7 linked regions of the Homo sapiens genome follow. The protein of the gene in region 1 purifies or fractionates together with the protein of each later gene. This does not show direct contact. Each region holds a gene or a part of one and is shown in the gene's direction. Other genes may lie near its edges.

What was found.
Region 2: the proteins of DUSP10 (region 1) and C5orf22 purify together in Homo sapiens (affinity purification with mass spectrometry, with the first as the bait; one large-scale study listed by BioGRID). This does not show direct contact.
Region 3: the proteins of DUSP10 (region 1) and ECI1 purify together in Homo sapiens (affinity purification with mass spectrometry, with the first as the bait; one large-scale study listed by BioGRID). This does not show direct contact.
Region 4: the proteins of DUSP10 (region 1) and SKIC3 purify together in Homo sapiens (affinity purification with mass spectrometry, with the first as the bait; one large-scale study listed by BioGRID). This does not show direct contact.
Region 5: the proteins of DUSP10 (region 1) and SAMHD1 purify together in Homo sapiens (affinity purification with mass spectrometry, with the first as the bait; one large-scale study listed by BioGRID). This does not show direct contact.
Region 6: the proteins of DUSP10 (region 1) and MAPK10 purify together in Homo sapiens (affinity purification with western blotting, with the first as the bait; one study listed by BioGRID). This does not show direct contact.
Region 7: the proteins of DUSP10 (region 1) and FBN2 purify together in Homo sapiens (affinity purification with mass spectrometry, with the first as the bait; one large-scale study listed by BioGRID). This does not show direct contact.

What each region holds. Positions count from the first base shown.
Region 1 is NC_000001.11:221,700,924-221,704,089, reverse strand, and holds the end of DUSP10 (dual specificity protein phosphatase 10), read left to right. Parts: intron 1-1,412; coding exon 1,413-1,678; 3' UTR 1,679-2,666; downstream 2,667-3,166. UniProt on the Homo sapiens protein: Protein phosphatase involved in the inactivation of MAP kinases. Has a specificity for the MAPK11/MAPK12/MAPK13/MAPK14 subfamily. It preferably dephosphorylates p38.
Region 2 is NC_000005.10:31,549,301-31,552,426, forward strand, and holds part of C5orf22 (UPF0489 protein C5orf22), read left to right. Parts: intron 1-1,992; coding exon 1,993-2,132; intron 2,133-3,126.
Region 3 is NC_000016.10:2,245,088-2,248,587, reverse strand, and holds part of ECI1 (enoyl-CoA delta isomerase 1, mitochondrial isoform 1 precursor), read left to right. Parts: intron 1-1,601; coding exon 1,602-1,729; intron 1,730-3,500. UniProt on the Homo sapiens protein: Key enzyme of fatty acid beta-oxidation. Able to isomerize both 3-cis (3Z) and 3-trans (3E) double bonds into the 2-trans (2E) form in a range of enoyl-CoA species, with a preference for (3Z)-enoyl-CoAs over (3E)-enoyl-CoAs.
Region 4 is NC_000005.10:95,544,978-95,548,477, reverse strand, and holds part of SKIC3 (superkiller complex protein 3), read left to right. Parts: intron 1-1,326; 5' UTR 1,327-1,327; coding exon 1,328-1,417; intron 1,418-3,500. UniProt on the Homo sapiens protein: Component of the SKI complex, a multiprotein complex that assists the RNA-degrading exosome during the mRNA decay and quality-control pathways.
Region 5 is NC_000020.11:36,889,729-36,892,708, reverse strand, and holds the end of SAMHD1 (deoxynucleoside triphosphate triphosphohydrolase SAMHD1), read left to right. Parts: 3' UTR 1-2,480; downstream 2,481-2,980.
Region 6 is NC_000004.12:86,357,254-86,361,222, reverse strand, and holds the start of MAPK10 (mitogen-activated protein kinase 10), read left to right. Parts: upstream 1-1,169; 5' UTR 1,170-1,565; intron 1,566-3,969. UniProt on the Homo sapiens protein: Serine/threonine-protein kinase involved in various processes such as neuronal proliferation, differentiation, migration and programmed cell death.
Region 7 is NC_000005.10:128,528,246-128,531,745, reverse strand, and holds part of FBN2 (fibrillin-2 precursor), read left to right. Parts: intron 1-1,052; coding exon 1,053-1,151; intron 1,152-3,500.

The sequences.
Region 1 (3,166 bases):
TTCCTGAATCAAGTGTGTGTAGTGGAACCGGTGGTCCAGCCAGGCACTCAGAAGCTCATTCTCTCACCACCATGCTTTCTGGTCTTGACTTGGAGCTAAATACCGTGTGCTGAAGGGAAAAAGTTGAAAAAGAGAGATGCTTACTTTTCTTGAAATACTGTTGACTATGAGAAGTAAACTTCATCTGTAAATTTTTAAGATGAAAATTTACATCAGGTTTTTTTTCCTTGGTCCACTGGTGGGTAGCCAGTAGATGTAGTTTAGGTGAAATCACTACTCTCTCTACCCCTTCTCCTTCCCTACCTGTTTATCTAATTGGTGTTCCTTCAAGGAAGCTTTCTTAGGGATGTGTTAGAGTCTAGAAATGTCATTAAGAATCTGTTCAGGTAGTGCCCACATGCTATTGTCCTGAGCTTTTAATATATTTGAAAACTTAGCAAGTCTTCCTCTTTCAATTGCTCTGGATTTTGAGCCATTGCTGGGATTCCTCCATCTTCTGCATTATTGCCACACTGGAATGTCATACATGGAAGCAAACGGGATTGAATGCTTGAGAGGTGACACCCTCGGCCTGTATACTACTAGCCTTTAGTTAACTTTGCAACAACTGGATTTTCTGGGGAGAAGCTGAACATAGTATCTTCCTAGTTAAGCTTTATTCCTTTAACCTTAATCAGGGTTTAGTAAGACTAAAACTCTTATCCATTTAATGCCCGTTCCTGTACAGAGCAATTCTATAGAATAAAGAAAGTGTTTTTTCTCTATTACAAGTGAGAGAGTTGTTACTAGCACTAGGTTTGTTAAGTCACACAACCGAAAATTGGAATTAACATCCTTAATCCAAAGAGGAACTGCATATATATATATATACACACACACACACACACATACACACACATACATATACATATATATGTGTGAGTGTATATTTTCATGTGTGTGTATAATTTTTCCCCTTCCTCTCTCCTTTTCCTTCATTCTTTTTTTTTCTTTCAGTAGTGTAATTCCAGAAAAAAAGAGAACAAGACATTTGAGAGAAGGTTCAGTGACTGTTAGAGTCGACTTGATCAGTAGCTTGTTCAACGTGAAAGTTAACTGTGTTATAGGTCTGGCTTCCGGCCACTGCTGTCACCTGTGCAGCAAACTGTTCCTATGAGCAATTCTTTCATTTAATCTTCTCTTTAAATGTAGATGTATAGCTTCTTGTTCGTGCTGATATCAACTTTAGCCAGTTCTGGAAGTTGTGACATAAGTATACGTAATGAACTAGTGGATTATACTTGGCTTTAAAACTGTTTTAATTCATTATTTCTATACAAAATAAGGCATTGCAAAGTTGAGATGAAAGTTTCTCTCTCCGTGCCTCTCTCTTCCATCTTCCCTTCATCTCTTGTCTTTCTCCCTTTTTTCAGAGGAAGCTCACCAGTGTGGGAAGGGGCTTCTCATCCACTGCCAGGCTGGGGTGTCCCGCTCCGCCACCATCGTCATCGCTTACTTGATGAAGCACACTCGGATGACCATGACTGATGCTTATAAATTTGTCAAAGGCAAACGACCAATTATCTCCCCAAACCTTAACTTCATGGGGCAGTTGCTAGAGTTCGAGGAAGACCTAAACAACGGTGTGACACCGAGAATCCTTACACCAAAGCTGATGGGCGTGGAGACGGTTGTGTGACAATGGTCTGGATGGAAAGGATTGCTGCTCTCCATTAGGAGACAATGAGGAAGGAGGATGGATTCTGGTTTTTTTTCTTTCTTTTTTTTTTTGTAGTTGGGAGTAAGTTTGTGAATGGAAACAAACTTGTTTAAACACTTTATTTTTAACAAGTGTAAGAAGACTATAACTTTTGATGCCATTGAGATTCACCTCCCACAAACTGACAAATTAAGGAGGTTAAAGAAGTAATTTTTTTAAGCCAACAATAAAAATATAATACAACTTGTTTCTCCCCCTTTTCCTTTTAAGCTATTTGTAGAGTTTATGACTAAATAGTCTGTGCAGGTTCATAGACCGAAGATACTACACACTTTAAACCAATTAAAAAGAACCAAAAGTAAATAGAAAAGACATTGAATCACCAAGGCCTGGGATCAACCTGGGCTGTCCACACAGAAAACAAAAACCCAACCAAACCAAGCCCTGTTGTGCTCACTGGTGCAAAGAGAAGATCAGGGCAGCTTAAGTGGTCTAAGAATCCTTCAGGCATTCTTTAAGGAGAAAAAGGATACCTTTGATTTTGTGTGTTTCATGCTCTGGATTTTTTTTTTTTTTCCTTCTCTGGGTTTAAGAGATTTTTTTTGAAATAGTGAGGAACTGACCATTATATGCCTTCACTGGCTTCTTGTGCAATAATATGATGTTTTAAGTGTGCAAACAAGTTAGAGCTGGCAGCTGAATGATAGACAAATAGTGCAAATTTGCCAGCTTGGAGATAGAAAGGAATTCAACAATATATCAAATACTTTCCTTCCCACCTTTTTCCTTTTTTTTTTTTTTTTCTGATTTGATTCTGGTTACAGTGCCATAAACCTTGTTACATATGTATATCAGAATGTAAGAAAAAAAAATTTATTTAAAAATATTTTTCGCAAAAAAAAAAAAAATCTTGGTGTGTTTCTGTTGATTGTGTAAAAATTTATTTTCATTATATAAATGAAACTGGTTTAGGATGTGTCTTTTTTTCCCCTCTCTTTTACCTTAACTCAGGTTCAAGCCTTTCTTAAGCTCTGGTAACTTGCATATACAACAAAGTTGAAATAAAACAGATTTTTATATAGGGAAAGAGAGATGAGGAAGGGAACATATCCAGTTTTCTCACTGTGAAACAGAGTTAGCAAGGAAGTGGAAGAGCTCCAGTATTGATCTGCCCAGTCACTGTCCCTTATATTCTCACAATGCTGTCATCCTCTCCTGCAAATATCATTCCTTTTGCATCGGGGAAGGCTTGCATTAAGGGGATCCCATCTGCCTTTGCGCCTTGGTGACCAAATCCCTGCCAGATTGATTGGTGAGAATTCAGTGATCTCCCTAGTGGCTATTTGATAAATACTTAGGACAATCTTCCATTTAGGGATCTTGATGTTCCTCCCCCCACCCCCCCACCCCATTGTCACTTGCTCACTTGGCATCTTTGGTGACATTAACCATGTAATGCGTTGCAGC
Region 2 (3,126 bases), on another chromosome or scaffold:
CACAGTCACCTCCCACCAGGTTTCTCCCATGACACATGGAAATTGTGGGAGTTACAATTCAAGGTGAGATTTGGGTGGAGATACAGCCAAACCATATAATGAGCAAAGCAAAAGAATATTTTGGTGAAACCTAAGCAAATCCAAGACTTAAACTTTTTTGTTTAACTTTTTTTTTTTTCCCCTGGGAGCATATATTCAAATTGCCCTGAATAAACACTTCCAAGACTTACACTTTTTAAAAATGGTAATTAAGAAGATCGTTATAAGATACTTAAGGTTTGAAAATGTTTTGAGGCCAGGAGCAGTGGCTCATACCTGTAATCCCAGCACTTTGGGAGGCCAAGGCAGGTAAATCGCTTGAGCCCAGGAATTTGAGACCAGCCTGGGCAACATGGCAAAACCCCATCTCTACAAAAAATACAAAAATTAGCCAGGTGTGGTGGTGCACACCTGTAGTCCCAGCTACTTGAGAGGCTGAGGCAGGAGGATTGCTTGAGCCTGGGTGGTTACAATGAGTTGAGATCCTGCCATTGGACTCCAGCCTGGGCAACAGAGTGAGACTTTGTGTCAAATTTAAAAAGAGAAAGAAAATGCTTTGAATTCATACAATATTATCAAATATGTCTGCAGGCAGGTCTGCTTTAATCATTACATTGCATCTGGGTTTTTTTCGTTGGGTGGGTTTGATGTTTTTTGGGGGGCAGGGAATGGCTAGGGCTCAGTCACAGATTATGTAATCCATTATGATATGCCCTACAGCTGCAGAGATAGAACGCTAAATAGTTTTATCATTTTGGCAAAATGAACATCCAGAATTCATCCTTTTATCACACTGACTGATCATTGCCAGTTAAATTGTTGATGTGTATCCAAAGCCTCCAATAAAATATTTGATTAGTGTGTTTTTTCATACTTTGCACTTGCGTACTCTAGGCAAAACTATGACATAGTTAAGTTCCAGTTTTCAAAACATTAAAGTTAAGGTTGCAGAATGGTAGCATGTGAGCCACTTCTAACTTTCAGGCAAGTTTAGTGTAGTGCTAAGACTAGAACATATTCCATTCAAATTTAAAACACATAGGTAGATAGCAGTAGCTTATGGTTATACATAAAGGATACACAAGAAAACAGTTTGGTTAAATAAGGTAGGATAAATATTTTCTCTTGTATCCTCTCAAAGCTTTGAATGTAGTACTAGGTGCACATATTAATATTTAAAAAGTAAGTAAAATAATGTGTTAAAAATGAGATAAGAATATGTACAATTTTTTTTTTTCTTTTTGAGACGGAGTTTCGCTCTTGTTGCCCAGGCTGGAGTGCAATGGCACGATCTTGGCTCACTGTAACCTCTGCCTCCCGTGTTCAAGTGATTCTCCTGCCTTAGCAGGAGAAGCTGGGATTATAGGCATGTGCCACCACGCCCGGCTAATTTTGTATTTTTAGTAGAGACGGGGTTTCTCCATGTTGGTCAGGCTGGTCTCCAACTCCCGACCTCAGGTGATCCGCCTGTCTCAGCCTCCCAAAGTGCTGGGATTACAGGCATGAGCTACCACGCCTGGCCTCAACTTTTTAGAATCTAGATGAAATGGATAATTTGATAGAAAATGTGAATTACCAAAATTGACCCAAGCCCAATGAAGTAGTTAAAGAATTATTCTAAAAAGAGGCATCTGGCCCAGACAGGCATATAGGCGAGTTCTACCAACACTTCAGAGAGCAGATAACTTTTATGACATAGAAACTGTTAAGGAAAAAATAATCCCAATGCATAAAAATATTAAAAATTAAAAGTTTTTCATATTTAAGGTGTTGGATATCCCAGTTACCCTGATTTGATCTTTATATGCTATTATGAATCACATGTACCCTGAAAATATGCACATCTTTTATGTATCAATAAAAGTAAAGATTTGTCAATAAGGCCATTAATGATTAAAGAAGCTTATAAAAACAACTGTCATACAGTGTAATTTTTAATTGTCTTATTTTCAGGTTCACCAGGCTGGTTTAACCTGCGATTATTCAGAACTTCCTCACCATATCAGCACAGAACAAGAAATAGAGTGTCTTATTCAATCTGTGCATTATTTGCTGAAAAATTTACCAAATCCTACTCTTGTGACAATTGCAAGGTAAGTGTGTTCAGCAGAATAATGGCAAATCAGAGATGTGCACATCCTAATCTCTGGAACCTGTGAATATGTTACATTATATGGCAAAAGGAAATTCGCAGTGTGATTAACTCAAGGATTTTGAGATGAGATTATCCTGGATTTATCAGGTGGGCCCAGTGTAATCACAAGGGTCATTAGAAGAGAAAGGCAGGAGGGTCAGAATCAGAGAGAGTGATTCGAAAATTCTACACTTCGGGCTTTGAAGGTGGAGGCCACAAGCTAAGGAACACAGGCAGCCTTTAGAAGCTAGAAAAGGCCAGGGGACAGATTATCCCTGGGATCTTACAAAAAGAATGCAGCCCTGTCAGCACCTTTATTTTAGGACTTCTGACCTCCAAAACTATATAATAAATTAGTGTTGCTTTAAGCTACTAAGTTTGTGGTGATTTTTTATAGCAGCAGTAGGAAACTAATACAATCTCTGTAGGTAAATAACCTGGTCACTAGAGCGTAAAATGAGTTTATCAGTGGTCTTACAGATTATCTCTTTAGGTTTGAAATACTTGTACTAAGGAGTAGGCCAGATAACTAATTCCAGTTCTTCTATAAAGATTTCTGTGCTGCTCTTCTCACTCTGTCCTCTAGAAGGCTTTATTCACCCTTATCCGGAACCAGGAGACACTGGTTAATCCAGTTGTAACTGGCAGCAGCATTGTAACTGCCCAGTGCAACTCAGGTTGCAGTTGGTAAGTTCTGGAAAGACTCCCAAAATACAGATATCTGCCCCAACCTACTTTGCTCTTTTCTGCTTCCTACTGCCTAGGAAAGTAAATCCAACACCAGCACATCGCCACATTTCATTTTGGACCAAGCCATGGATCCTTTATAATTTTGTAGTTAACAAATCATTTTTAGAAATAGGATCCTTTTATCAGTTGGAAAACCTCGACCCTCATCATTTCTAGCCCTAGCACACACATAATAAAAGATGTTCCATCGCTAAGATAATAAG
Region 3 (3,500 bases), on another chromosome or scaffold:
GCAAAAATTAGCCAGGCATGGTGGTGTGTCCTGTAATCCCAGCTTCTCAGGAGGCTGAGGCAGAAGAATGGCTTGAACCCAGGAGGCAGAGGTTGCAGTGAGCCGAGATAGCGCTGCTGCACTCCAGCCTGGGCAACAGAGCGAGGCTCTTGTCTCAAAAAAAAAATAAAGATAGAAAATGGTTAATTTGGCCGGGCATGGTGGCTCACACCTGTAATCCCAGCACTTTGGGAGGCCGAGGCGAGGTGTTCACGAAGTCAAGAGATCGAGACCATCCTGGCCAACCAACATGGTGAAACCCCATCTCTACTAAAAATACAAAAATTAGCTGGGCATAGTGGCGCATACCTGTAGTCCCAGCTACTCAGGAGGCTGAGGCAGGAGAATCGCTTGAACCCGGGAGGTGGACGTTGTAGTGAGCTGAGATCGCGCCACTGCACTCCAGCCTGGGCGACGAGCGAGACTCTGTCTCAGAAAAAAATGATAGAGAGAGAAAGAGAGAATGGTTGATTTAAAAAGCATGCAGTTTATATAGAATAAATAAAATTGTTAATTTATGTTATATCGATCTTACTTCAATGTAAAAAACCAAGGGCTCACTCCTGTAATCTAGCACTTTGGGAGCCTGAGGCAGAAGGACCACTTAAGCTCAGGAGTTCAAGACCAGCCTGGGCAACAAAATAAGACCTCGTCTGTACTAAAAAATAAAAAAGATTAACTGGGTGTGGTGGCGCTTGCCTATAATCCCAGCTACTCAGCAGGCTGAGTTGGGAGGATCGCTGGAGCCCAGGAGGTCAAAGCTGCAGTAACCAGAGATCACACCCCTGCACTCCTAGGTGATAGAGTGAGACCCTGTCTCAAAAATAATAATAATAAAAAAATAACCCCCAGGCCGGGCGCTGTGGCTTACGCCTGTAATCCTGGCACTTTGGGAGGCCGAGGCGAGCGGATCACCTGAGGTTGGGAGTTCAAGACCAGCCTGACCAGCATGGAGAAAACCCCGTCCCTACTAAAAATACAAAATTAGCTGGATGTAGCGGCACGCACCTGTAATCCTAGCTACTCGGGAGGCTGAGGCAGTCGAATCGCTTGAACCCAAGAGGCAGAGGTTGCGGTGAGCCAAGATCGCTCCATTGCACTTGAACCTGGGCAACAAGAGCAAAACTCCGTCTCAAAAAAGTAAATAAAAATAGGACCAGGCGCGGGGGCTCACGCCTGTAATCCCAGCACTTTGGGAGGCCGACGTGGGCAGATCGCGAGGTCAAGAGATCGAGCCCATCCTGGCTAACACGGTGAAACCCTGTCTCTACTTAAAAGAAAAAAATTATCCGGGCGTGGTGGTGGGCACCTGTAGTCCCAGCTACTCAGGAGGCTGAGGCAGGAGAATGGTGTGAACCCGGAAGGCAGAGCTTGCAGTGAGCTGAGATCGCGCCACTGCACTCCAGCCTGGGTGACAGAGCGAGACTCTGTCTCTAAATAAATAAATTAATAAATAAAACCCCCAAAATGCACAGCTATCATGGCTTAGTTGAGGGTGCAGGCTGGTCAGGCTGCTTTTCCAGTGCCAGGTGTGAGCTTTCTCTTCTCATTCTTTAAATTAGGGGTCGCTGTGATGAAATTCAAGAACCCCCCAGTGAACAGCCTGAGCCTGGAGTTTCTGACGGAGCTGGTCATCAGCCTGGAGAAGCTGGAGAATGACAAGAGCTTCCGCGGTGTCATTCTGACCTCGGTAGGTGCTAGTTCAGCTCCCTACCCCAGCCCGAGTTCTTGGCCTGAGTTCTCTGATGTGAGCCCAGGCCTGTTGCACATGGAAGAGGCAGAGCCTGCCAACGTGTGGCACAGGCCAGCCGGCAGCCCCACCACCCTGGACTCCAGGCGCCTTCACGGGAGGCTTCCAGGAGCACCGTCTGGGTGTGCCCCAGCAGGGACCCAAACTGCCATGGGCCTCAAGCAGATCATTCCCAAAGGTGAAGGTGGACCAGTCTCAGAGACAGCCTTCCCAGGAGACAGCTTTCCCAAGAGACGCCCTTCCCGGGAGACAGCCTTCCCAAGAGGCAGCCCTCCTGGGAGACCGCCTTCCTGGGAGACAGCCTTCCCTGCCCGGGCCGTCGTCCAGGCGGACACTGGGGAGAGCTGTGGGCAGCGAGTGAGGGAGAGCCATGCATCTATGGGGTCACCTTGGACCCTAAGCACACCTGGTGGTGGGTTCCTGGAGTGCTCCCCACTAGGATCACTTGGGTGCCCTGAGCCAGTCCTGCGAACAATACCCATGCTCTCTGATCCTCTGTGGGCCAGTCTTCAGGGCGAGTTCTCAAGGGTGAACCTCTTTGGTCTGAGTTCTTGTGCAGGGGACTCTAAATGTTGCCTGAGTGCTGGCGAACGCTAGGCGTGTCATCTGTGGGAACGGTGTCATTACCAACATCGCCGAGGGGCAGTAAGCAGTGTCAGGCCCAGGAGGATGGGACCCTTGAGGAGAAGCGGGCATTGGCTGAGGTGAGGGGAGTGAGGGGTCCTCGGAGGCTGGCGTGGCTTTACAGGGCCTGGCCTAGAACTCCTGACCTCAAGTGATCTGCCCACCTCGGCCTCCCAAAGTGCTGGCCACGTCCAGCCTTATATATTTATTGAGACAGAATCTCCCTCTCTTGCCCAGGCTGGAGTACAGTGACGTGATCTTGGCTTACTACAACCTCCGCCTCCTGGGTTCAAGCGATTCTTGAATCTTGAAAATTTTTAAAATTTTTGGGAGAGACAGTGCCTTTATTGCCCACGTTGGTCTTGAACTCCTGGGCTCAAGCACTCCTCCCACCTCGGCTCCCCAGTGTGCTAGGATTACAGGTGCGAGCCATTGCACCTGGTTAATTTTTTTGCTTAATTTTTACTTTTTTGTACAGGCGGGGTCTTGCTATGTTGCCCAGGCTGGTCTTGAACTCCTGGCCTCAAGCAGTTCTCCAATCTTGGCCTCCCAAAGCTCTGGGATTACAGGCATGAGCCACCACGCCAGGCCTGGGTTTTGAGTAACGGAAGTAGAACGCGTTTTGTAGAAACAAAGGACCGGCCTACCCATTCTGTGCGGCACCAGCTCACACCTGTTTGGGAACAGCGGAGCTGCGTTGCCCACCCGCACCGTTCCTGGCTTTTTCACATCGCCTGAGGATGTGGAGGCCATCCCATCTGTCCCAGCCGCCTCCTCCTCGCACACATTAGGTGGCTGTCGCCCTCCTTCCTGCAGACAGGGCGGGGTAAACATCCACCCAGCTCTGCTTGTGTGAGTCAGGGTGAGCTGGGTTCAGCTGCAGGAACAAGTTCACCCACAGCCTTGGGGGGTCTGGCCCTCGGGAGGAAAACGTGCCGTGTTGTGCAGAGGGGAAGGTACCCTTGTCATTTGCTCAGGGGGCTGTGACCATGCAGGGTCCCCAGGGTGGGTTCTCCACTCCTCCCCGAGCCCGCCTCCCTGGCCGGCAGCCCTGACTGGGAGTCTGAGGCTCCTGTGCTGGCGCCCG
Region 4 (3,500 bases), on another chromosome or scaffold:
TCTGCCTATTTAGGGAATCTGGTTCTAGCTGTAGATAAATTGATTTTATGGTATCTTAATTTTTCTATTATTTTGAATCCTAACATTTTTTAAGTCAAAAAGATTAAAAAATATGTATCTAACTTCTCAAACTTCTTTGGTCTCATACTTCTGTGTTAGCTTCTTCTTTGGATATAAAGGACTGTCAGTGTACCATGTCAGTGATTCATCTTTTTGGTACATTTTACTCCCTTGAGCATCTGAAGCCTATAAATACTTAATATTTACCCCAGCTTTGTTTTACCTTTCTATGAGATTAGAGGAGCTGACAGAAAATACAAATATTTCTTTTTTTCAACATTGAATTATGATTGAATTAGACTTGTTTATAGGTAAGCCAGAATAAGTTGTGTAATCTTAAAATATGCTAATTTATTTAAAATTAATATATCTTAAGACTAAATGAAGAAATACTTTCTCTACTAATTAAAATATCTTTTTATGGCTGAAATTAGTATACAACCCTTTTGCATTATCCATTGCTTCCATTCAAGTTTAAACATTGTTTTTCTTTAGAAAAAGTACAGGTAATAAACCTACAGTAATCCTTATTGTGAAGAAAGTTAATATCTTGATTTATGTTTCACAGAAACTAGCATTAAAACAATGCTTTCTTAAACTTTCATATCACAGTCACTGAAATTATTTGTGTTAGTGTTTTATCTGTGACTTGGGCTTATTCTACTGGATCTAGCTTTGTATAGAGTGGGAGAGTTGGATTGAGATTGGTATGTGTTTTGAGTCCTGATCAACAAGATCATTTGTATTTTAGCCAAAATATATAGAGAATGAATGTAAATAAAATATAACTCAATTTCAACACTTATTAATTGATCATCTATAATTTAAGATACTAGGTCCTGGGGATGCGGCAGTGAAAAAAAAAATTCTTGCCTGCATGGAACTTAGCTTCTTGTGGGGTTGGGACCCAGAAAATAAACAGGATAAATAAGTAGAATATATAGTATATTAAATGTGACAAATGCTTTCAAGAAAAATAAAGCAATGGAAGGGGTTCCGGAAATAATGGGTTGTTGAGAGTAGGGGGATGGCAAGATTAAAATGTTAAATAGCATGTCAAAGGAAGGTTTCATTGAGGAAGTGACATTTGAGTACAGATCTGAAGAGGTTAAGGAATAAACTGTGTATATTCTAGAGGGAAGACTGTTCCAGAGAGAAGGAGTCTTTTCCTTTTCCAGGGTCCCTTTTCAGATGGCTAAGTTTGTTGGAACATTTACGATTGGGTAGGTATTACTGTAGATTTACTCAGGCTTTCTGCCTTGACAGAATGTCCAGCAAGGAAGTGAAGACTGCTCTAAAAAGTGCTAGAGATGCAATCAGAAACAAAGAATACAAAGAAGCTTTGAAACACTGTAAGGTAACCAGTATTTTTTTCTTCCACAATGAAAGTATGTTACCCATTTATAAACATTGTTGATTTGTAATATGTGAATTATTTCCTGTCCAAACAGCAAAAGTGGTAAGGCCATTTAGTAGAACCATTAGAATGGTTGGACTTTTAACCTCTAGTTAGCAGGATAAACTACCTCTGCCAAACTTAACTTTCTCTGTATTGGTAACTTAACAAAACCAAGTTCTTAAAACCTGAATATCCCATAAATATCTTTTGATGGTTGTATCGTGGAATGCTACTGTATCTTAAAGTTTTCATTGTTTAATGGCATGTTAGTGTTCTATTTCTATTTGGTTTGTGGATGAGAGGACCAAGATTATAAAGCTTATTTTTATGCTGATGGGTATGATTCCATTCAGAGGGAGAAATTGGACTCGGGGGAGAGACAGAGGGTAGTGGTAGGAGTGAAGTCATCAGTAGGTGAGAGACACACTGGGATCCAGAGCTTGAGGGAGCCCTTTAATCCTTCTTCCATCTTAGCAGGAGAGAAGATAGGTGCCCATCCATACAGTGTTGGGCTTATAGATTTGGTGTTGGGAAAAGCTTTCTTCTCTAATGGCTTCTATTTTCTTGGCAAAGTATAAGATGAGACTGGGAGAAGACTTGGTTATTGGTTAGGAGGTTTGAGATAGCAGAAGGTATGAAATAGTTTCTTTCTTTGTTTTTTTTTTTGTTTTTTTTTTTTCTCATGGTGGGAAAAGAAACTTGCTAGTAAGGATTGGAAAGATTAGCAGGCCCTAGTGATTGCCCATTTGAAGTTTCAAGCTATTAAAGTGAAATTAGTGAACTCCGCTGTAGTTTTTCTCTTTGTATTCAGTTTCTCAGGTTTGGAGATGGGCATGATGGGGTTCAAGTATGGATGGAGAGAAAGAAGAAAGGAAAGACATGCAAAGGAAAGACATGACAAGGGAGTGATGACAGTGGTGAGCCCTGGAGTCTAAGCTGGGTAAAGAGGAATGAGAAATGAGAGGTGGGCTGATAGGCAATGGAAAAAGCGTTTAGGATAGAAAAAATTAGAGAAACCAAAGGTTAAAGATTTGTTACCATGGGACCACTACAGTAATTGAACTGGGACGGTTAGAGAGGAGCAGAATAGTACTGTGCTGGAAATTCAGATTTTGGATGGGTGAGTAGTGTGGTGGTCACATAACTGAGAGGCCAGAGTGTTCAACGGGATATCAACATGAATACAGGCACTGAGGTGGAAAAGAAGGATACAGAATTTTCACTGAAGGAAAGGGGAATTAGGAAGGTGGTAGACTGTAGCAACAAGAAGGCTATTTTTAGTAGTATAGTTGGATGGCCTGAGCTTCAAAGGTAGTGGGGTTGCTGAAGGAGGAAGGAGCAGTAGAGGACTGTAGGTGACAGACAGTGTGAGCAAGAAGCAGTTTCTCACCTTCTAGGCCTGTGGCATGTGAGCTGTAAAAGAAGTCATCTGCAATCTGTAGGATGTATAGGGGAATTAGCCATGTTTTCATTGAGGCAGAACTTGGTGTGGTTAAAAGAAAGGTTAAAAATATGGAAGGAACTTGGCTGACCCAGATTGGGAGTTCCAGAGGGCACAATGAAGAATTTAGGAGAGTGGTAGGGAGGGAATTGGGCAAGACTGGGCAGTATACATGGCAATATGAGGATGAGTCTAAGGAGTAAACAGGTAAAGGATACCCTTGTGAGGTTTAGGTTTCTGGTGGTGACTGATGGAGCCCAGCAGGGATGCAAGGACGTGATAGTATTAATCTTGATATAGAAGAAGGTGGGCAGTGTGTTCCAAGTGGGGACAGGTTGTGGATGGAATACAAGAAGGGAAGAAGGACTGTTTCCTTCAGCACTAGGTTTATCTAATTGATGCACGTTTCAGTTATATACAGCACCACCATAGCTGTCTTCTTCCTGTAGACTTTCTGCAAAATTCAGATATTAATTCCACCAAATAGTTAATAATTTATACTAGAGAGACCCAATTAGAAAATGCAAATGGATAGCTAATCAGTTATAAATGCCTGATTACTAATGTGTAGTAACCCAGAATATTGGTTGAGACTAAATG
Region 5 (2,980 bases), on another chromosome or scaffold:
AAGCCTTTCTCCTTCAGTAGTCTATTTTCTTAGAATAACAACTCTTTTATCTATTCTGAACTCTATTTTTTTTCTTTTTTAAGAGACAAGGTTTTGCTCTGTTGCCCAGCTTGGACTCGAACTTTCCTGGGCTCAAGCGACCCTCCTGCCTCAGCCCCCCAAGTAGCTGGGACTAAAGTCATGTGCCACCACACCCAGCTTACTCTGAACTTTTATGACAGATGATTGTTTTTTGTTTTTAATGTAGAAATGAGACAAGGGTACAAATTGGAACTAGAAATTGACATTGTCATTGACAAACATGGCTAAAAACAAAACATCAAATCCTGCCCCCGTGAAGAGTTCCCTGTCACCTCAAGTTTGAGGATAGTCCTCTAAGAGTGACCTAAGCATAAGTGAAAGACACCTCCCCTCACCCTTCTAGCCCCCTACAAGGTGCCAGGTTGGGGTAAAGAGTTGGAGATGATGGCCAGGAGTGGCCTCCAACACGCTGGTGAGAGGCCTGATTAGGTTTTGGGGAAGATCTGAGAGCTCTGGCCTCTTCGTGAGTGGAACATAAAGCCGCCTCTTGTTGGGAGATCCTACCCCAGTGACAGAGGAATCCCCCAAACTAGGCTGTGCCCTGGCTCCGTGGCGGCTCCAGACCCGGGTAGTGCCTTTGTCCCCTGAATACTCACTCCCCCGGTCCAGAGGGCCTTCCCACTGCCCAGCCTGGAGAAGGCCTCCCCTGACCTGCTCTCTCAGTATCCTGGAGAGCTGGCCAGAGGCCATCACAGGCATCATCCTCAGAGCTCCTCAGACCTGGGACTTTGTTTTTGCTGGTTCAGTGCATTTTGTGTATTTAAGAGCAAACACTAGCCAGGCGTGGCGGCGTGTGCCTGTAGTCCCAGCTACTTGGGAGGCTGAGGCAGGAGGATTGCTCGAACCTGGGAGGCGGAGGTTGCAGTGAGCCTAGATCACGCCATTGCACTCCAGCCTGGGTGACAGAGTGAGACTCCATCTCCAAAAAAAAAAGCACAAACACTGCACTGCCTGTGCTGAAATTAGTGACCACCCAGTGGGCTCCAGGCTCCGCTAGGTAACTTCGTTTTCCCAGCAGTGGAGTGGGCACCACCTTGGTGGGGCAGTGCCCCTGTGCCCAGGGCACACCTCATTCCCAGTTCTATAGCAATTCACCAAGAACAAAGTCTGCAGTTAGAGCCAAAGCTGGTGGTGGCCAGAGGGTGCTGAAGATACAGGCCAGTGGGGATGGGAGCCATGAGCCCCGAATGTCTTCTGCTCTGATGCTCCCCGGACTAAGCCTCCCTGGCACACTGGGAGTGAGGGGCAGCCTGAGCAAGTAGGGGAACTCAGACCACAGGCCAGCAGATTTCCCAGCAGTCCATCACTGGCCACCGTGTAGCCAGATTCTGTTCCGTCCACACTGGGGTGAAGAGTACTTGGAATGTCTGCCATCCTGTATGATCACCCCACCCCCTGTCCATCCATCAGTAGATAATAAGGGTTGGTTACAATTCATAAGAGAATAGTTAAAACACTTCTCCTCTCATGCCTACCATGGTGCTGTATCAAGGGGATTTGTTCACATATGGGCTCAGCAACGCACAAGTGAGGTCAGCCATGGCACTAGGTCATTCCCATTTTAGCCAAGGTGCCTCTATAGGGGTCAGACATCATGTGCCCAGACCTAAGGTCAGGAATGTCATATTTTTCTGTTAAAATCATTTTATTTCTGTGTATCTTACCTTTAAATCATTGTGGTTTACTCTGAGATTCTGTAGTCCTAATATTGTATCATTGTGCTGTCTGCAAAACAACTTGAATCTATTTTGTTTGCATCTTTTGTTACATGTAACGCAGCTGTACTTTATGTTCTTTGCAACTGTTTCCATTATGAGAACGCTGTGCTATTTACAAGGTTACATTTTTCTTGGCCAGGCGAGGTGGTCATGCCTGTAATCCCAGCACTTTGGGAGGCCAAGGTGGGCGGATCACTTGAGGTAAAGAGTTGAGACCAGCCTGGCTAGCATGGCGAAACCCAGTCTCTACTAAAAATACAAAAATTAGCCGGGTGAAATTAGCCGGGCGTGGTGGTGTGTGCTTGTAATCCCAGCTACTCGGGAGGCTGAGGCAGGAGAATCGCTTGAATCCGGGAGGCAGAGGTTGCAGTGAGCCAAGATCAGGCCACTGCACTCCAGCCTCGGGGTCAAGAGCGAAACTCTGTCTCAAACAAAAAGAAAGAAAGGAAGGAAGGAAGGAGGGAAGGAAGGAAGGAAAGAGAGAAAGAAAAGAAAGAAAGAAAGAAAGAAAGAGAAAGAAATATCTTTGCTATTTGTATAAAAATGGAAATTTTAACAGCTTAGCCTCTAGAGAGTTACTGAACGTGGTTACCTTGGGAATGTAAATAGAACTGCAAATTAAAATGACTGGCCACTTCAACTGGGTAAGGGAAACAGCTGCAATAAAGCTTCGTGAATATATATCTCCATCTTGAAAGTTGTGTTCCACAAAGGTTTCGACCTCTTTGTCCAAAAATGCATATTACTCATTTACTCCTTTCATACCTTCATTGTGAAATTAAATAACAGACTCACAAGCACCTGGCACTGGTGGCAGACAAAAAGGCCTCAACATTCTGCAGCAGGCCAGAGGAGGAACGACGCTGCTACAGTATTTATTAGTTCCAGTGCTCAAGCCCAGGTTTCTAAGGTTTGACAATATTCTGTAAGTTAAAATCATTTCCACACATACAGAGTAGAATCCTGTTTTTGTAAGTATACACACACACACACACACACATTCATGGAACATTGTCTGGAAGGATATACATGAAAATGTTAAGAGTTGGGGGGGGTTGAATTTTAGGCAATTTTAATTTTTTTAACGTCTTCTGGTTTTTCTACAATAAACATGAATCAGTTGTAGAACCTCTAAAATGATAATGTTCATGAGGTTGGTTTTCCTCGTTCAGTAGCTGGCG
Region 6 (3,969 bases), on another chromosome or scaffold:
ACAAAGACAACAAAAACGTATGCGTTTCTTACAGCTTTATGATGTGTTTCAGTGTCTACAGTACTGCTGAGTTTGCATCTCTTGCATGTTGTATCTTTCTGGTAACATATGGAAGAAGCTTCATATTCATATAAGTATGCTAGTTCTAAAACATAATGTGGAATCATTTACAACTCAGCACTACTTGGTAGCAATAAACAGAAACCCACCTCAAAAGAGTGTAAGCAAAAAAGGAATTGAATTAGATTACGTAATTTGAGAAGTCCAAAGGCTGGAGTTGGTTTAAGCGAAATTTGTATTGAAAATTTTTCTTACATAAAAAAGGTAAAACAAATTTGGTAAACCTAATTTTTTTTTATAGTGCAAGTAGTCAACTGTTGTCATTCTAAGAAACTATTATTTATGGATAGTAAAACTGTTTGGAGACTTTAAAAATACCCTATAACAGTTAAAGGCAGAGCAAATTACTGAAATAAAATTGCGATATTTGCCCCAAATAGTAACAGTACAATTTTCATCAGTTCTCTAGAAAATTATCTGCAATTAAAAAAAAAAGAATTCTGATGTGTTAACTCAAATTAATCAGTATTTTCTTTGTACACTCAGATTGCAACCTAAGTATTAGTCTGTTGAATTTGGTTTAGTGGATATTTATTCAGGATTTTTACAAAAACAAGGAAACAGAGAAGAGGAATAGTGCTGTGCAGATGACCTCGGGGTTCAGGCGACACTCAAATGCCTGCTTCTCCTCTGAGGTTATTACCATCTCTTACTTGTTTGACGTTTAGAGATACTACAAGAGATAGTTGAAAAGCAGAGGTTGCATTTCCAGTGGTGTTTTGCTCTGCTGGTATTTGCTCCTCCGTGCTGCTGTGCAAAGGGCCAGAACTGCATCGAATGGATCTTTTCTTCAGGTTGTGCAGGCTGGCTGCCTTGATGTCGTAGTTGCTGATGTTGGCTGCCGACGAACCTTATTCCTTTACATTTGCCTGGTCCTCATTTCACCGGAAAACACAGTAGCTGTAGCTGCACATAGACGCTTCCTCTTTCTGTTTCCCCCTCATCCCCCTCCCTAGACCTCTCTGGGCTTTGACGTCATGTGTGCTCCTTTCGGTTGCCATAGCAACCCCATTCCCCAAGCCCTCTGTCCGTCTCCTCTGGTAGGTTCCACAATGGTACAGGCAGCATCACGCTGCACAATGGTTTCCAGGCAGTGAAAGAGGGTGATTCAGCAAGCCACTCTTCTTCTATTTTCTTTAACCTCCCCTTCACTTTTTATTTTTATGGGGGTGGGTGGTGCTTGCTATATGCTTACCTTTTTCTTTTCTTTTTTCATTTTTACAAATTTCCTTTTTTGTCCTCACCCCTCAATTCCTAGGGGCTTGAGTGAGTTTAAGATTGGGTTTTCTTGGAAATCACCTGTCCATCGTTAATTTTAAACAATCTCCATATCTCCAAAGAATCTCTTCCATGTTAGTCTGGAATGTGGTTAATGAAAAACAAGTAGGGAGGATTTCTGGGGCAAACACTGCCGGATCAGGATCGTAGTTCTCAGGCACGGAATGGTAGGTGGCTCTTTGCTCGTTCTGGGTTCTAACCTGTTTTTGGAGGGTGGGGTGATGTCTATTGATTGCTCCTGGTGGGGCGGGAGAGGGAGTATGGAAGAGACGAGAGAGGTGGGGTGGAAAGCAGGTTAATCAAGTGAACTAGCTTTGAAGCAAGAAGCTACCAGTTTTTCCCTCTGTGCAGAACATCTCTTTCCAGACTTGGGCGTGTTGAAACCTTTCCATTTGGAGTGAGGGGTAGCAGAGGGAGGGAGGGAGCATTCTTATTGTGACCAGGGGTTTTTAGACCAATGCAGGGCTACAGAAGGGAAGGGAGAGAGAGAGAAACACACACACACACACACACACACACACACACACACACACACAGAGAGAGAGAGAGAGAGAGAGAGAGGAAAAAAAAAACACCAAACAGCTGTGCTTGTTAGAAGTGCTGACCTTAGTTCCATATCTGAAAAATGTGATGGGTTCCATAAAACATTAAAAATAATGTCTTTTAGTATGTATTTATGTTTACTTTTGTGAGAAGTATAATTTAAATATTTTAAGATGTATTTTACTAAGGAACAGTATTTATATATATATTAGATATAAAACTATTGGCGTTACTCTTGCAGAGCAACTCTAGGCTAAATCTGAGCCGGGGAGAGGAACACAGAACAGGGGTCAGGTTAGAGATAAGAGGAAACATTGGCACTGCAGTCAAATAGGTAAGGGGTCCCTTTAAGAAAGTGATCTCCTAGTCACAGCAGTCAGCTTTCTTTTTTTCATGGCAAGATTCCCAGGTATTCTGTGCTGGGATACTGTGTCCCCTGCAAATGTCAGAGCTCTTTTGAAAAAAAAATCAGAAATAAGTATGGCAGTATATTTGTTAGAATCTATGTATTTGTGCCTTCAACAAAATAAATGTAATTTACTGGAAAATCTGTAAGTAAATCAGGCTATAGATATTACAAGAAAACTATCTATCCATATATTTTTCTCACCCTCCCCAAACATTTAAATCTAGAGACCTAGTCTCTGCTTTTACCCCCTTAAACAGATAACTTCCCAGGGTACTGCAATTTAGCCACAGAAAAAGAATGGCTTATGCCACAGCAGTAGGCTCTGAAGCAATCACAAGGTTGTTTACATGGGCTGCCTTTGGTGCAGAGCCTGACAGTGTCTGTACAGCAGCCCTGCCTGCTTCTGGCCATGTTGATGATAACTTTTATGAACAAACTGCAAGGAAGCAGGCTAAGTCATATGGGATAGACTACAGTTCAGGTGGAAGGAAAACGAGTGTAAGTGCACCAGGCATTGCCAGCACAACATCCAATATCTCCTTCTATCCCTCATCGGCTAGTTGTCGGACCCTGGAAGATAACACAGAATGCTTATCAACATATTTAAAATAGTTGCAGTAAGGACCATTTCTCTCAGAGAAGCTTCTGTGAATTTTCTACTTTAGGTGAGCATATATGTTACAAATATATAACAAATAAATATATAAGTATATCACAAGCTTCTGACTCCACTTCAGAACCATTAGATTTTAGGGGCTGGATGCTTTGGATGTAGCGGTTTGGCTGCCTCTGGTATGTATTTCCTTCTCTACCTTGATCACACTCTTAAAATTGACATAAAGTATTGGATTAGCTTATTTTCTTATGTGGAGCAAACTGGGTTTTCTCTCCCCTACAATGGGACTAGAAAATCAGATGACAAAGGTGGTGTGACCTTAAATATTAGAGAGTCTTCATGCTTCCTCATTTGCCTGTCATTCCTCTGCTGTTGCAAAGTGTCTTTAATTTGAGGGGCTCCTGTTCTTAAAAAATCCTCACAGTTTCAGTAAAACGATTCTGGATAGTGAGGCAGTAAGAAATTATATGTAGAGTGGGAAAATCAGCTGCCTCCAGCTTCCTGCCTGCTAGCCCCAGAACAGCATCTGCTGTTGAGAGGAGTGTGTTTGCCATGCTGGAAGGGGATGTTTATGAACAGATCCCAGAGGGGCTGAGTGTGTTTTTGCTGTCATTGTCTGGTATGTCTGCAGCTATTAGTATTTAATGGTTTCATAGTACATGGTCTATATATTCTAAGGTTAGAATGAACTGATAATTTATTGTCAATGCTATAAAATGTAGATATTTTAAATTTATAGGAAAATTAATAAGATTTTCCTTGTTAGGATATCCTACAGGAACATCATAAGCAAAACAAATTTGCCCAACCTAAGTAATCTAGAAAAACCTCCCATGTTTAAAGGCATAAATATATTTTTAAGGTTTTATTGTGGTTTCATGTAAATGAATCTGTTTCTTTGGATGTAAGCCTAGTTATAAATTCTTTTTATACTGATACTAAAAGCTAAAGACAAATTGGGTATTTACTTGTTTGTTAAATATGGGGATAGATGTTCTCCCTT
Region 7 (3,500 bases), on another chromosome or scaffold:
GTGTATATATATATATATATATACACACATACATATATATACACTTATATATACATACATATATATACACACACACGCACACATATATATGTATTTTAAACTTAAAAAGCCTGTGCTTTATTTTATTCTACCATGTTTTCATTCTGTAACGTTTACTTACATATGACTTTATTTTTGTTTCTATTTTTCCATAAGTTATTGGGGTACAGGTAGTATTTAGTTGCACGAATATGTCCTTTAGTGGTGATTTGTGAGATTTTGGTGCATCCATCACCTGAGCAGTGTCCACTGCACCATATTTGTAGTCCTTTATCCCTCACCTCCTCCCACTCTTTCCTCCAAGTCCCCAAAGTCCATTATATCATTCTTATGCCTTTGTGTCCTCATAGCTTAGCTCCCACATATCAGTGAGAACATACAGTGTTTGCTTTTCCATTCCTGAATTACATCACTTAGAATAATAAGTCTCCAGTCACATCCAGGTCACTACAAATGCTGTTAATTCATTCATTTTTATGGCCGCATAGTATTCCATTATATATATGGTGATATATATATTATATGTATCACAGTTATATATATATATCACCATATATATATAACAGTTTCTTTATCCACTTGTTGATTGAAGGGCATTTGGGTTGGTTCCACGATTTTTCAGTTGTGAATTGTGCTGCTATTAACATGCATGTACAAGTATCTTTTTCGAATAATGACTTCCTTTCCTCTGGGTAGATACCCAGTAGTGGTATTGCTGGATCAAATGGTAGTTCTACTTTTACAGCCACTATGGAAAACAGTGTGGAGATTCCTTAAAGGATTATGCAATTTGAAACAGCTTCATTTGTTTACACGTTTTCATAAGGATACCTGTGAGACTTATTCCCAAGTCTGCAATGGGTAATTTTATTGCATATCTGAAGTTAGACATTTATATCATATATTTTATCTTAGTTTTTCAGGCTTTTTATTTTTAAATACAGCTTTCTTGTTTTGTAAACTATGGTTTATTATATAGTTATTCATTCATTTTCCTATTGTGCTTTCTACAGCGATTTGTAGAAATAGTTGTGGAGATGGATTTTGTTCCCGTCCTAACATGTGTACTTGTTCCAGTGGGCAAATATCATCAACCTGTGGATCAAAATCAAGTATGTTTCTTACTTGTGGCCTTTTCACTGCATTTTTCTTAAGCTTTGGAGCAAATGCTAAAGGTCCTTCTATGTGCCAGGGAGTTTTAACTGTTATTACTTTAGTTAATCCTTACATCAACATTATGAGATACTGTTAATACCCCATTTTACAGAATAGCAAAGTAAAGCACACATAATTTAATTAACTGGCCCAAGGAAACACAGACTTGAATCCAGGTATTCTGATGCCTAAGTGTATAGTCTCAAACACTAGACTGTATTTGTTGCCTTTGCTTAACATGTGTTTTGTGGGTTATCTAAGGGGGAAGGAGAGGAGAACTCCAAAGGCAGCATGTGTTTATTGAGTACTGACCACATACTTTACACATAATGGACCTATTTTGCTTCACATGTATTAACTGCCAACAACTTCATAAGATAATTATAACTGTGGACTATGATTGTGTGATTCATGACCCAATTAGAAATTGTTGGGTCCTTAAGGTCGAAGATTAATCTTTGAGGCTAGTATTTAAGATAACATTATAACAAGGCAGAAGCAAGATTGTTTATTTAATTGCTCAATAATTAAATAAATGCTTTCTTAAGTCTTGCCTCAAACTAGTGTGAAGTCATTATATTTTTAATACATCTTTCTTCAAATTTTCCCTAAAAGAAGGTAATATAGTATGTCTGACTCAGGAATAAGATTCAGGATTCATACATCAAATGCCATTGTCTTCTGATGAAACTCCTGATGAAAACTCTCTTAATTTCACTTCCTTTGAATCTGCCATTTCCTCAGCTTTTAAAACCTACCATTCAAATTCATCAAGATTTCTTGACCACTTTAACCAGAACATTTCATCCCCAACTTAACCTGAACCTCTCTTTCTTGCCTGATTACCTACAAGATACTGTTGCCAGTATGTTCATTATCCTGTTCCTAGTTTTCTCATATTTGCCTTTGGCAAAAAACACAATGCTGGAGGAATTTTAAGATTCAGTTTCTTAATTCCTCTACCTGGGAGCTGGGACATTCTCTGGTCCACTCTTTGCTTGTGGTATATAATTTAGCAGGGAATCTGTGCATTCATTTGGCCTTGGGCAATCCTTCCATTTCATCAGGAACTTTTCTAACCCTCCCAATCATCATCCTGTTTGACCTTGCTAAAGCTTTTGGCACTATTAATCATTATCTTCTTGAAATGTTGTTTTTCATTTTCTTTGAAACACCCTTGACTTTTAAAATGCCAGTGGCCTTCAGTGCTCCTTTTCTTGATCATTCCTTTTTAGTCTCTTTTCTATGTCTTCATCAGTCTTTCATTCAAGGTTTGGTATTCCTGAGTTCTGCCCTCCCTGGGTGAACTCATGTTTTCAATGACTACCAATCTGTTGATAACTCATAATATTTATCTACACTGGAGATCCCACCACTGACCTCCACACTCATATATTCCCTTTCCCATTTGACATCTCCACTCAAGAAATAGCAAGCAATTGAAACTTAGTAGCATGTCTAAAAGGAAACTGAATTTATTGCTGACCACAGGCTACTTGAACCACACAGTTCCTCCTGCCTTGGCAAATGGCTCTGCCATCCACCCAGTGCTTAAGTAACTGCTGCTTCTCTTTCTCTATGTCGGCTCTTTAAACAAGTCCTGTAGGCTTTACTGGAAAATAATTATCTCAGATTTATCTTTTCCTTTCCATCTCCACTGCTACCATGTGGTGTAAGCTATCCTCATCCTTCTCCCAGACTCTCGCCCTCTTCAAATCCGTTCTCTGCAGAGCAGCTAGAGTAATCTTTTTAAAATATAGATTACATCACTTCACTTTCTCATTTAAATCCTTTCAATGACTCCCTGTTGCATTTGGGATATAATGAAAACCCTTCGGTGGCCGAGGAGGCCCTGTGTTAGCTGGCTGGTCTCTGCCTGGGTTTCCAAGGTCTCTTCCCTGTCTGCCTCTTTTTAACCACAGGAATCTCTCCATTCTTCAGAAGAAACCTTTTACCATCCTAAGGTCTTTTGATTTGCTGGTTCTTCTCTCTCTGAAGTTTCTCCGTGGTACTTTTAATATCTGGCTTATTCAGTGTAAATGTCACCTCAGAGTGGTCTTGTCTAGTGCCAGTATCTAAGCTCCTTCTTGGCTCCAGACTAGTCTCCTTCACAACAGTTTACTTCAAACAGTTTATCACAGTCTATAATTACTTAGTGGTATTTGTTTACCTGTGTTTTCCGTAGCTCCCCATCGGAATTCAAGCTCTGTGAGGATAGCTTTCAAGTCCATTATGACAGTACTGCACTGAGCTGGAATGGTGGGCACTCACCTCCTGCATTCTGAATGGAGACAAAAGTGCCTCCT